Linked DNA regions of Homo sapiens: region 1 is linked to region 2. The links come from fine-mapping of genetic effects on gene expression. A gene starts in region 2. The other region holds a variant in brackets. All regions are shown on one strand. Distances are from middle to middle. Region 1 overlaps MYH10 (myosin heavy chain 10). Region 2 holds the start of NDEL1 (nudE neurodevelopment protein 1 like 1).

Evidence for each region. PIP is the estimated chance that this variant, and not a neighbour inherited with it, causes the effect. A credible set is the group of variants that fine-mapping cannot tell apart.
Region 1: its variant is the best candidate, but not a certain one, in a credible set for the expression of NDEL1 in monocytes (Fairfax 2014, PIP 0.51).

The regions. Positions count from the first base shown.
Region 1 is chr17:8,608,471-8,613,851 of GRCh38, forward strand. All of the region lies in intron 2 of MYH10 (myosin heavy chain 10), which reads right to left. Among named protein-coding and RNA genes, the nearest start is that of MYH10, 20 kb to the right of the region's middle. The variant C/G (reference allele first, on the strand shown) is at 3,282.
Region 2 is chr17:8,432,585-8,437,965 of GRCh38, forward strand. NDEL1 (nudE neurodevelopment protein 1 like 1) reads left to right here and starts at 3,300. Exons shown (of 9, transcript NM_030808.5): 1 at 3,300-3,461. RefSeq lists silencers at 3,104-3,273, 3,374-3,573, 3,614-3,853.

The DNA of each region.
Region 1 (5,381 bases), 180 kb after region 2:
GAAGGAAAAACAACTGATTTGTGGGAAAAGATAACAAATCCCTTTAATGTACTGACACTGTGGTATGGTGGGTGAGCCAAGCAGGATGCCTCTTGGGCAGCTGGAAATATTGGATTGCCAGAGCCTTGGGAAAATCCTGAAGAGCTGCAAAGGCCTGAAAGGTTAAGTTTGCATAATAACACTACTGTATACTTTACCTAAGGGAGACATACAAAAATATTTGCAGTTGGAAACATTTACAAATTTTCAAGCCCACTATGCTGCTTTATGCCTCCAGGCTCCCACCTATGCTGACCACTCTGCCTGGAATGCCCATCTTCCTCTGTCTATGATTGGGAAATTTTTTTTTTTTTTTTTTTGAGACGGAGTCTCGCTCTGTCGCCAGGCTGGAGTGCAGTGGCACGATCTCGGCTCACTGCAAGCTCCGCCTCCCGGGCTGACGCCATTCTCCTGCATCAGCCTTCCGCGTAGCTGGGACTACAGGCGCCTGCCACCACGCCCCGCTAATTTTTTTGTATTTTTAGTAGAGACGGGGTTTCACTGTGTTAGCCAGGATGGCCTCGATCCCCTGACCTCGTGATCTGCCCGCCTTGGCCTCCCAAAGTGCTGGGATTACAGGCATGAGCCACCGCGCCCAGCCGATTGGGAAATTTTTCAGCCTGGAAGTGCCCGGCCTCTGTTTAAGAAAGCAGGGCTATGTATATGCATTGTTTCATAGGTTCAAAGGATTAGAGAAACAGGAAGTGTAGGCTGGTGCAAATGTCAACGCAATGGAGCAGAGATACAATAGTCTCCTACTACGAACAGGGATTGAACTGGGAATATCATGTAACCCTACATCCCAACTGTAGCTCTCAGAAGAAATCAGACCACCATCGAGAAGGAAAGGGAGGAAGGAAAGAATAATTCACCCATACCACCTGCAAACACTGCACCTAGTTAAAATTCACATGCAAATTTTGAAAAAAAACCTAAATAATAAGATCATCATTCAGAGGATTCAGAAATAAATTACCTGTGGAAATTATCTATAAAATAACTAAAAGAAAACTTTAGGAGACAGATTTATATCTGTAACAGAATATAGTATAACATAGAGTCTACGTATTAGGACAGAAATGCATAAGAAAAAAAATAGGTGACCAGGGCCAGAAAAGACTGTAAGGAATCATCTGAAAACGTAAAATTAAAATCCACAGTGGAGAAAATAAAGGGCAGAATGGATACCTCAGGAAATCAAGTGATAAGAGCAGACATTTATTATAGGAGAGCATCCTTCTTAAAGAAAAATAGAACAATGGTAAAATAATAAAAGAAAATGACGTTACAAAGGCAAAACTTATCAGTAATAATAATACATAGAGGGCAGAGGAAGGATAACTAACATTAGTTGCTATTGCTTCTTTGAGAGAAAATAGCAAAAACACTCTGTAAAAAAAAAAAACTTGAGAAAACTGTGTGTGTGGAGGAATACACATTGAATTAAAAGGAATTCGCTAAGCTAACAAACGCAGAAGGAATAATGGCACTGGACTCACCATTTTGCAGCTCCCAGTGCCACAGTGGATCTGCACAATGCCCATCACTATTAAAATTTTTAGGTGACTGGCAGATGAGGCCACTCCTCATGCACAAACCAGGCTGGCAAAACCTAAAATGACTCACTACTGATCAATCTCAACATCATAAAGTGAGAGACAATGTAGCATTAAGTGTCTCCTGAATCTGAATCCGTTTAAGCCTCTGGATCCAATTTATGGATTTTTCTCCTTCCAGTTTATAGGGAGCACCATAGGATTGCAAAAAAAAAAAAAAAAAAAAAGGGTTGGGGGAAGCGGCCGGGCATGGTAGCTCATGCTTGTAACCCCAGCACTTTGGGAAGCCACGGTGGGAAGATCACTTGAGCTCAGGAGTTCAAGACTAGCCTGGGCAATATAGTGAGACCCCTATCTCCAGAAGCAAAAAAAAATAAAAAATAAATAAAAATAAATAAAAAGAGGGGAGAGAAAGAGATTAAAAGTGATATAACAATTGCTATGCTTTGACTGTGTCCCCACAAAAGCATGTGCTGGAAATTTAATCCCCAGTGCAACAATGTTGGGAGGTGAGGCCTATTGAGAGGTGCTTAGATAATGAGGGCTCCACCTTCATCAATGGATTAATGCCAATTATAAAAGGGCTTGTGGCTATAAATTCTATCTCTTGCTCTCTCTTGAGCATGCTCTTCTTGCCCTTCCGCCTTCTCCCATGGAATGATGCCGCAAGAAGGCCCCACCAGATGCAGCCCCTTGACCTTGGACTTCCCAGCCTCTAGAACCATAAGCCAAATAAACTTCTCTTGTTTATAAATCATACAATCTGTGTTATTTTGTTATAGCAACACAAAACAGACTAAGCAACCAATCTCAATATGTCAACCTTGTTTGGATCCTGAATTGTACAGACCAACTATTTATGAGATTATTTATGAGACAAAAGGAAAATAAGAAAAGTAACTGAATATTTGATGATTAGAGAATTGTTATTTCTTTCTTAGATAGATAATAGTTATGCATCCCAAAACCCGTTGCTGAGAAGATGCTAAGCAGAGCTTTCAGCAGCACAAAAGTCTAAGAGAACAAAAATTAAAACATTCCAGTCTACTCAGGAAGAGGTTGGTGTGGCGGTGGTAAATACCCCAAGCTTTCAGCTGGGACCCTGATGGCTACACCCTAAGAGTTAAGACTATATGAGAAACAGACCAGCCCTCACACAGCGTGAAGCCCAGTTGGAACAGAAGTCAACTCCTGCATGGACTACATGTCCTAGTTTCCCTAAGCCTGCCTGCCCAAAGCAAAACTCTAGAATAAGCTTAATGCCAGCCAGAGTCTCAAACTATTTCCACAATTCCTTGTACACAATAACTGGGCATATGAGGCAACAAGTTGTGGCTGAAATCCAAGATAATATCTGGAACCTCTGTGTGTCTATTTTTATTGACTTGTATTATTGCCCTGGGTTACAATATGTTCAAGTAATTAAAGACGTGACTGAGAATTCTGACAGAGAACTGGAAACTATTAAAGGAAAAACCCAAATGAAAATTCTAAAACTGAAAAACAAAACAAAACAAAACAAAACAAAAAAAGAAAACCAGTAACTACAATTAAGAATTCATGTGTTAAACAGCAAGCTAGATACAGCTGAAGAAACAATTAGTTACACGGCATTTTAATCAGAGGCAAACAGCCAGAGTGATCCATGGGGGAAAAACAAGGATAAAAATGTAGAGGAATGTGAGA[C/G]CCAGATGGGACGAGGTGAAACGATCTGGAGCATGTGAAGTATGTGAGTCCAAGAAGGAGAAAAAAGAGAATGAGGCAGAAGCAGTATCTGAAGAGATAATGGCTAAGAATTTTCCCGGACCAACAAAAGCCATCAAGCCACAGAGTCAAAACCACTACAATCTCCAAGCTGAATGCAGTAGTGCCCCTTATCTGTGGTTTCACTTTCTGCAGTTTGTTGTCCACAATCAACTGTGGTCCAAAAATATTTGTTGAAAAACTCCAGAAATAAACAGTTCATACATTTTAAATTGTGCACTATTCTGAGTAGTGTGATGAAATCTGGCACAATTCCGCTCCATCGTGCACAGACCGTGAATTATCCCTTCGTCCAGCATCATCATGCTGTACAGCTATTAATCACTTGGTAGCCCTCTCAGATCTCAGATCAACTGTGTTCAAGTCACCTTTATTTTACTTAAGAATAGCCCCAAGCACAAGAGTAGTGATGCTGGCAATTCTGATATGCCAAAGAGAAGCCACAAAGTGCTTCCTTTAAGTGATATGGTAAGTTTTCAACTTAATAACGATAAAATCATATGCTGAGGCTGCTAGGATCTATGGGAAGAATCAATCTTCTATCTGTGAATTTGTGAACTAGGAAAAAGAAATTCATCAAATCATCACAAGAAGAGTACAATAAGATATTCTGAAAGAGGGAGAGAAACCACTTACATAACTTTTATTAAGTATATTGTTTTAATTGCTCTATTTTAATAGTTATTGTTGTTAATCTCCCACCACGCCTAAATTGTAAATTAAATTTTATCATAGGTATGGCCAGGTGCGGTGGCTCACACCTGTAATCGCAGCACTTTGGGAGGCCAAGGAGGGGGCAGATCACGAGGTCAGGAGTTCAAAACCAGCCTGACCAACACGGTGAAACCCCGTCTCTACTAAAAATACCAAAATTAGCCAGGCGTGGTGGCGCACGCCTGTAATCCCCGCTACTCAAGAGGCTGAGGCAGTGGAATTGCTTGAACTGGCAGGTGGAGGTTGCAGTGAGCCGAGATTGCACCGTTGCACTCCAGCCTGGGCTACAGAGGGAGACTCTGTTCTGTCTCAAAAAAAAAAAAAAATTATCATAGGTATGTATGTATAGGAAAAAACATCATATATATATGGTTCAGTACCATTTGTGGTTTCAGGCATCCACTGGGGATCTTAGAATGTATCCCTTGAAGACAAGGAGGACCCACTATATACAAAATAAAACTTTACCTAAGCCCATCACAGTAAAAGTGTTGAAATCCAAAGACAGAGAAAATTTTAGAGACAGCCAGTGGCCGGGGTGGGAAAAGGAAAACCGATGACCTTCAAGGGAACAACAATCAAACTACAAGCTGAATTCTCAACAGAAAAAGACGAAAGGCAGAACCCGATGCAATGGCATTTTCACAATGTTAAAAGAAAACAACCGCCGGCTCTGAATTCCAAATCCAGCAAAAACCAAAAAAACTTCAAAAATAAAGGACGAGTAGATACTTCAGATAAAAGGGGCCCTTTCTAAAAGAACGGAAGCTAAAAGATGTGGAAAAAAAAGAGTAATGGATAAAACTAAATGAATATCGACAGTATTAAAATGTAATATGTGTCTTGTGGGTTTTAAAATATAGAGAGAATTAAACAACAAAAGCACATAAATTAGGAAGGAAGAGGAAATAAATTTGTTCAGGTGCTCTCAGGCCCTACCTATCATGATCTACAAAAGAATAAGAGCTCCACATGTCTAACAGGTCAAGGATCCATGTTGGAATATGTAACCACTAAAAGAATAGCTAAGCAAATAGCAAAAATGGACAGCTAACACGAGGTGAAAAGACAGAATAATAAAAATTATAACCAACGGACAAAAAGATTAAAAAATAAACATAGAGCGGGTAGGATAAAAAGAAAGCAATGAATCAGAGGACAGATTTAAGCTAAAATGTAACAGTCATTACATCACATGTACATAAACTAAATATTCCAGCTGAAAAATATTGTCAGATTTGGGACAAAAATAACCACCATAAGCAGTTTATGAGAGACATATTTTAAAGGCACAGGCACAGAAAAGCT
Region 2 (5,381 bases):
CGTGTTAGCCAGGATGGTCTCGATCTCCTGACCTCGTGATCCGCCTGCCTCGGCTTCCCAAAGTGCTGGGATTACAGGCATGAGCCACTGCGCCTGGCCTAAAGATTTTTTAAGATTAGGAAACAAAAAGTCTTCAGAGGGAGCCAAATTGGGACTGTAAGGTGATGTCTACTGATTTTCCACTGAAACTCTTGCAAAATTGCCCTTGTTTGATGAGAGAAATGAGCAGGAACTTTATCATGGTGGAAAGGTCTCTCTGATGAAGGTTTCCTGGGCATTTTTCCACTAAAGCTTTGGCTAATCTTCTCAAAACACTCTCGTAATAAGTACGTTATTATTCTTTAGCCCTCCAGAAAGCAAAATGCCTAGAACAACCCACAAAATGGTTGCCATGATTTTTGCTCTTGACTGGTTCACTTTGCTTTGACTGGACTACTTCCATCTCTTGGTAGCCACCGCTTTGTCTTCAGGATTGTACTGGTAAAGCGAAGTTTCATTCTTGGTTACAATTCTTCAAAAAAAAAAAAAGCTTCAGGATCTTGATCCCACTTGTTTAAAATGTGTGAAATTTTGAAAGCTCTGTTCTTGTCAGCAGCTGACCTGGGCACAATGGTTTTGCCACCCATTGGGTGGAAAGTTAGCTCAACTTTAATTTTTCAGTAAGGATTGTGTAGGCCAAATCTGTTGAGATATCTGTGGTGCTGGCTATTGTTTCTGCTGTTAATCATTGATCCTTTTCAATTAGCACATGAACAAGATTACTTTTTTTCCTCACAAATTGATGTGGAGGGTCTGCTGCTGTGGGCTTCATCTTCAACATCATCATGTTTCTTCTTAAAATGAATTATCCATTTGTAAACTGCTGACTTCTTTTGGGGCTTTGTCCTTTTACACTTTTATAAAGCGTCAATGATTCCACCATTTTTCCACCCAGGCTTCACCATAAATTTAGTATTTTGTATTGCTTCAATTTTGTAGAATATGTGTTCTGATAGGGACTCTCTTCAAACTGATTTCTTATCTTTCTTGGTGCTTCAAGCTAGATCCTGTTCAGACATGTTATAGCAAGTTAGAACAAATTTATTTTGGTGCAAACATTTATTTTATTTTTTTAGAGACAGGTGTCTCACTGTGCTGCCCAGGCTGGTCTCGAACTTCTGGGCTCAAGTGATCTGTCTACCTCAGCTTCCCAGAGTGCTGGGATTACAGGTATGGGCCACCATGCTTGGCCCTGTGCAAAAAAAAAATTGGAAATCCATGCATAGTTTTTTCATAATATGCATATTATTCATAATATTATTCATAATAGGCATATGTAATATGTTACCTTTCCCACAAACCCCATTAATCCCTTCTCTGATCTTTATTGATTTGGGTACCTCTTACAATCCATCTTGCATTGTTCCTGTTTATGTCCATCGCCCTCAAAAATATAAACTGGGCCTCCTAGGCTCACTTTGTTTTCACCTTGAGGCATGTCTTACACATTATTTTTGTGTTCACACCCACAAATCCAATCCTAAAAGCACTGAAATTGGAAAGGATTACATTGCGTGCCGCATGGAGGCTGGTGCCTGTAATCCCAGGACTTTGTGGGGGGCTGAGGTGGGAAGATTGCCTGAAGTCAGGAGTTCTTTTTTGTTTTGTTTTGTTTGTTTTTAGACGGAGTCTCACTCTGTCGCCCAGGTTAGAGTGCAGTGGTGCTCACTGCAACCTCCGCCTCCCGGGTTCGAGCGATTCTCCTGCCTCAGCCTCCGGAGTAGCTAGGATTACAGGTGCCCACCATCATGCCTGGCTAATTTTTGTACTTTTAGTAGAGACAGGGTTTCACCATGTTGGCCAGGCTGGTCTCGAAGTCCTGGCCTCAGGTGATTTGCCCGCCTCGGCTTCCCAAAGTGCTGCAGCGCCTGGCCGAAGTCAGGAGTTCTTGACCAGCCTGGGCAACACAGTAGACCCCATCTCCTAAAGGAAAGGATTACCTTGTACATTATACAGCAAAAGTTCTTAAAATTGTTTTTAAAATGTATCTCTTCCTTTAAGTTTCCACTCCCTATGTAAGTTGCCTATCCCTCTTTCCCTCCTTTTTGGGCTAGTATCGTCTCCAGCTTGCTTCCAAGTCCGCTAGGGAATACACACGCGCGCACACACACATACACGTGTGTGTTTACGTACTAAAAATATATAAACATTAATAATGCAAGATGGGGCCGGGCGCTGTGTCTCACGCCTGTAATCCCAGCACTTTGGGAGGCCGAGGCGGGCGGATCACGAGGTCAGGAGTTCGAGACCAGCCTGGCCAACATGGTGAAACCCCGTCTCTACTAAAAATACAAAAATTAGTCGGGCGTGGTGGCAGGCGCCTGTAATCCCAGCTACTAGGGAGGCTGAGGCAGGAGAATTGCTTAAACCTGGGAGGCGGAGGTTGCAGTGAGCCGAGATCGCGCCACTGCACTCCAGCCTGGGCAACAAGAGCGAAACTCCGTCTCAAAAACAAACAAACAAACAAACAAACAAAAACCAAGATGGATTGTAAGAGGTATATATATACACATAGGACTCCATTTCTTGGGGGACCTGGAGGGGAGAAAGTCACACCCATACACACACGTACACGCATGTATACAAAAATGAATATATGCTCAGATATATACAATATATAAATGGGCAAATATAAAATCCCCTTTGTGCCAACGAATCCATTCATTCATTCATCAAATATTTGAGCGTCCACTTTGCCTAGAACCAAGTTATCTGTTGGGATGAGCAAGGCATAAGAGGTTCTAGCTCTCATAGAACTTAGAATTCTACTGGAGGAAGATGAGAACAAATACAAAATGTAAACAGTGGAAGTTCTGTAAAAACAACACAGAGCTTTGTGAGAGTGATGCTTAGAATGCTCCTGATGTTCCATTGGGTGTTCGAGCAGGGGGAATGGACTCGGAGGTGAACTATGAGCCGAGATTCATTTTATAAACGGGAACACAGACACATGGACACTTGAAGGGCCTTGGTGGCCAGAAAACTGAAGGCAGGTTCCCATCCGTCTTGGCACCACTCTCCCGAATAGCAGTTTCAGGGAACTGCACAAGCCAAAACCAGCCGGTCGCAGAGTCCAGGAGCGCCTGCGCAAGAGGACGCCTGCGCAAGAGGACGCCGTCAGCTTGGCGTCAGCGCGCCGGGCTCTGGCCCGCCCCCTGTGACACCAGCCCCGCCCCACCCCGCCCCGCATACCCGTGCGCTGCCGCGCATGCTCCGAGCCCCGCCCCCGTGCGTCACAGAATGGCCTCGGACACCCAGGCAGTCCCTGACGTGTCGGGGAGGAGCCGGGCGCGGAGGTACGCTGAGTGGAGCTCGGGGCTGCGTAGGGGAGCTGAGCCGAGCGGCTGGGCGGGCCTGGCCGGGCCGGCGGAGGGGAGACGTCGGTTGAGCGGCGGCGAACATGCGCTTTTGACACATTGGAGGTGAGCCTGCAGCGCGGGGCCGCTCCCTAAGGGGCTGCGCTGGGCCGGCGGCGCCGAGGCCTGCCCTTGGGGAGCCTTCCCGGCCCGGGGCCGTGTCTGAGGCTCCGCCGGGGCGGGCCGGGCCGGGTTCCGGGGCGGCCAGCCTGGGGGCAACTGTTCCAACCGCTCTAACTGTCCCCTCCCTTCCCTGGTCCGATGTGTGGCCCCCCAGGGGCGCCTGCAAGGGAACGATTCCGGTGGCCTCCGGAAGATGTGCCCCGTTCCGGGTAGGGTGAGGGCTGGCGGTGACGGAGGCCGGGACGTGGCACCGTGGGCTGGGGCGCTGGCGGCGCAAGGAGTGGCCCAGTCGGAGGTGGCAGCGGCGCGCCCAGCCCGCCTCCTCCTACCCCCTCTTCGAAATTCCTTCATTTGCGAGGGTGGCTTGGAGCGGGGTTGCATTTTGATCTCTCAGTGCCTCTCTCCCATGGGGGGCGAGAGCGCGAGCAGCCCACGTTGGGCTCGGATTGGCATTCTCCTGACTCCCGCCCGGAACTGCTAATCATCCTCCCCCTGGAGTTCGGCAAAGTGTCACCAACGGGCTCGGGTTACTTGTGCTCGACTCTTTTCTTGCTGTAAGCCATGAGATGACCCTTTAAGTTTTGCAAAGGAGGTGAGAGTTCTGTCACCACTGATTATTACCTTCTATTTACGTAGCACCTTTACACGTTTCAGAGCACTCTTCTTCCTATCTTTTTCTAACCGCATCACCTTGTGGTTGCAACTGATTATGTTATCGCCATTTCGATGGGTAAATGGAGCTGGGATGGGGGTAATTATTTATACTTAGGTTCAACCAACTGGTGAGTGGTTTAGCTTGGATCATAATTTACATTTCTAGGCTCGGAGTTCTGGTTTCTTTTCGTGGGATTTTTATACCCTTCTCAGCTACAAAACAAGGCAGAAAATGTGACTTGCCAAAGATATGCCAGAAGCTGGTAGATTACTTACTCAATTATTTTTGAGAAAACTCACCTAGGATAAAAACGGCTGCTCAGTCATGAGAAAAATCTTCCTGTGAAGCTTGTTCAGGAGTTGCTGGTTAATTGCTTTGCTAAATCGTGAAGTTGATGGGCACAGTGCAGCGTTAAGTCATGGGCTGAAGAGAAGTAAAGGGAAACCAAGTGAAGTATTTCTTCTGAATTATTATTAAAATTATTGTTATTTAAAATTAGAGTGCGTGAGAAACAAAACCTTTGGCCAGCCCTGGTTAGAGGTTGACTTGATCCAGATAGAAGTTGCTAAATCTTCTGAAGCTGTAGTTCTTTTGATTTTTTTAAATTAAATAAATTGAAGTTGGATAAAGAGCTTAAAATAAGTAGGAACCTTAGTAAAACTTAGATCTTGCTTTCATGACATCTGCAAAACAACTTATTTTTGTTTTCATTTTAAACCATGCTGGGATAAATTTGGTTACTAAAGCTTAAAATTACTTCTGACGTAAGTTTCTGAGCACTCCATAAAGTAAAAAAGAAGTCTGATAGAATCAAAGAGAGACCGTGTTTATGATCAACTTTGAAGAGTTAAAAATTCTGTAAATGTCACCTTTGAGAGTAGTAGAATTTCAGTAAAAAGGCATATATTGCCAACAGTGAGTTCTGAAAGAACTCTTCTAACGTCAGTCCATTTTAGAACTGTTAACCAGAAACAATATCATTGAAAATAGATTTTCTTACCATTGTACAAAGAATAATTTCCTTGTAAATAAAAGGCATTTTGGACAGGCTGTTTTAAACTCAAATGAGTTGATTGTTGCTAGATTTCTGAAGGTCATACACAGTATGATAATGCTTTACGTAAAAATTGTCATGCTTTTGAGACTGTGTCCGTATTGAGATCTGGTATTAAAGAAAGATGGGGTGGGGGCGGGCAGAGAATAATAAT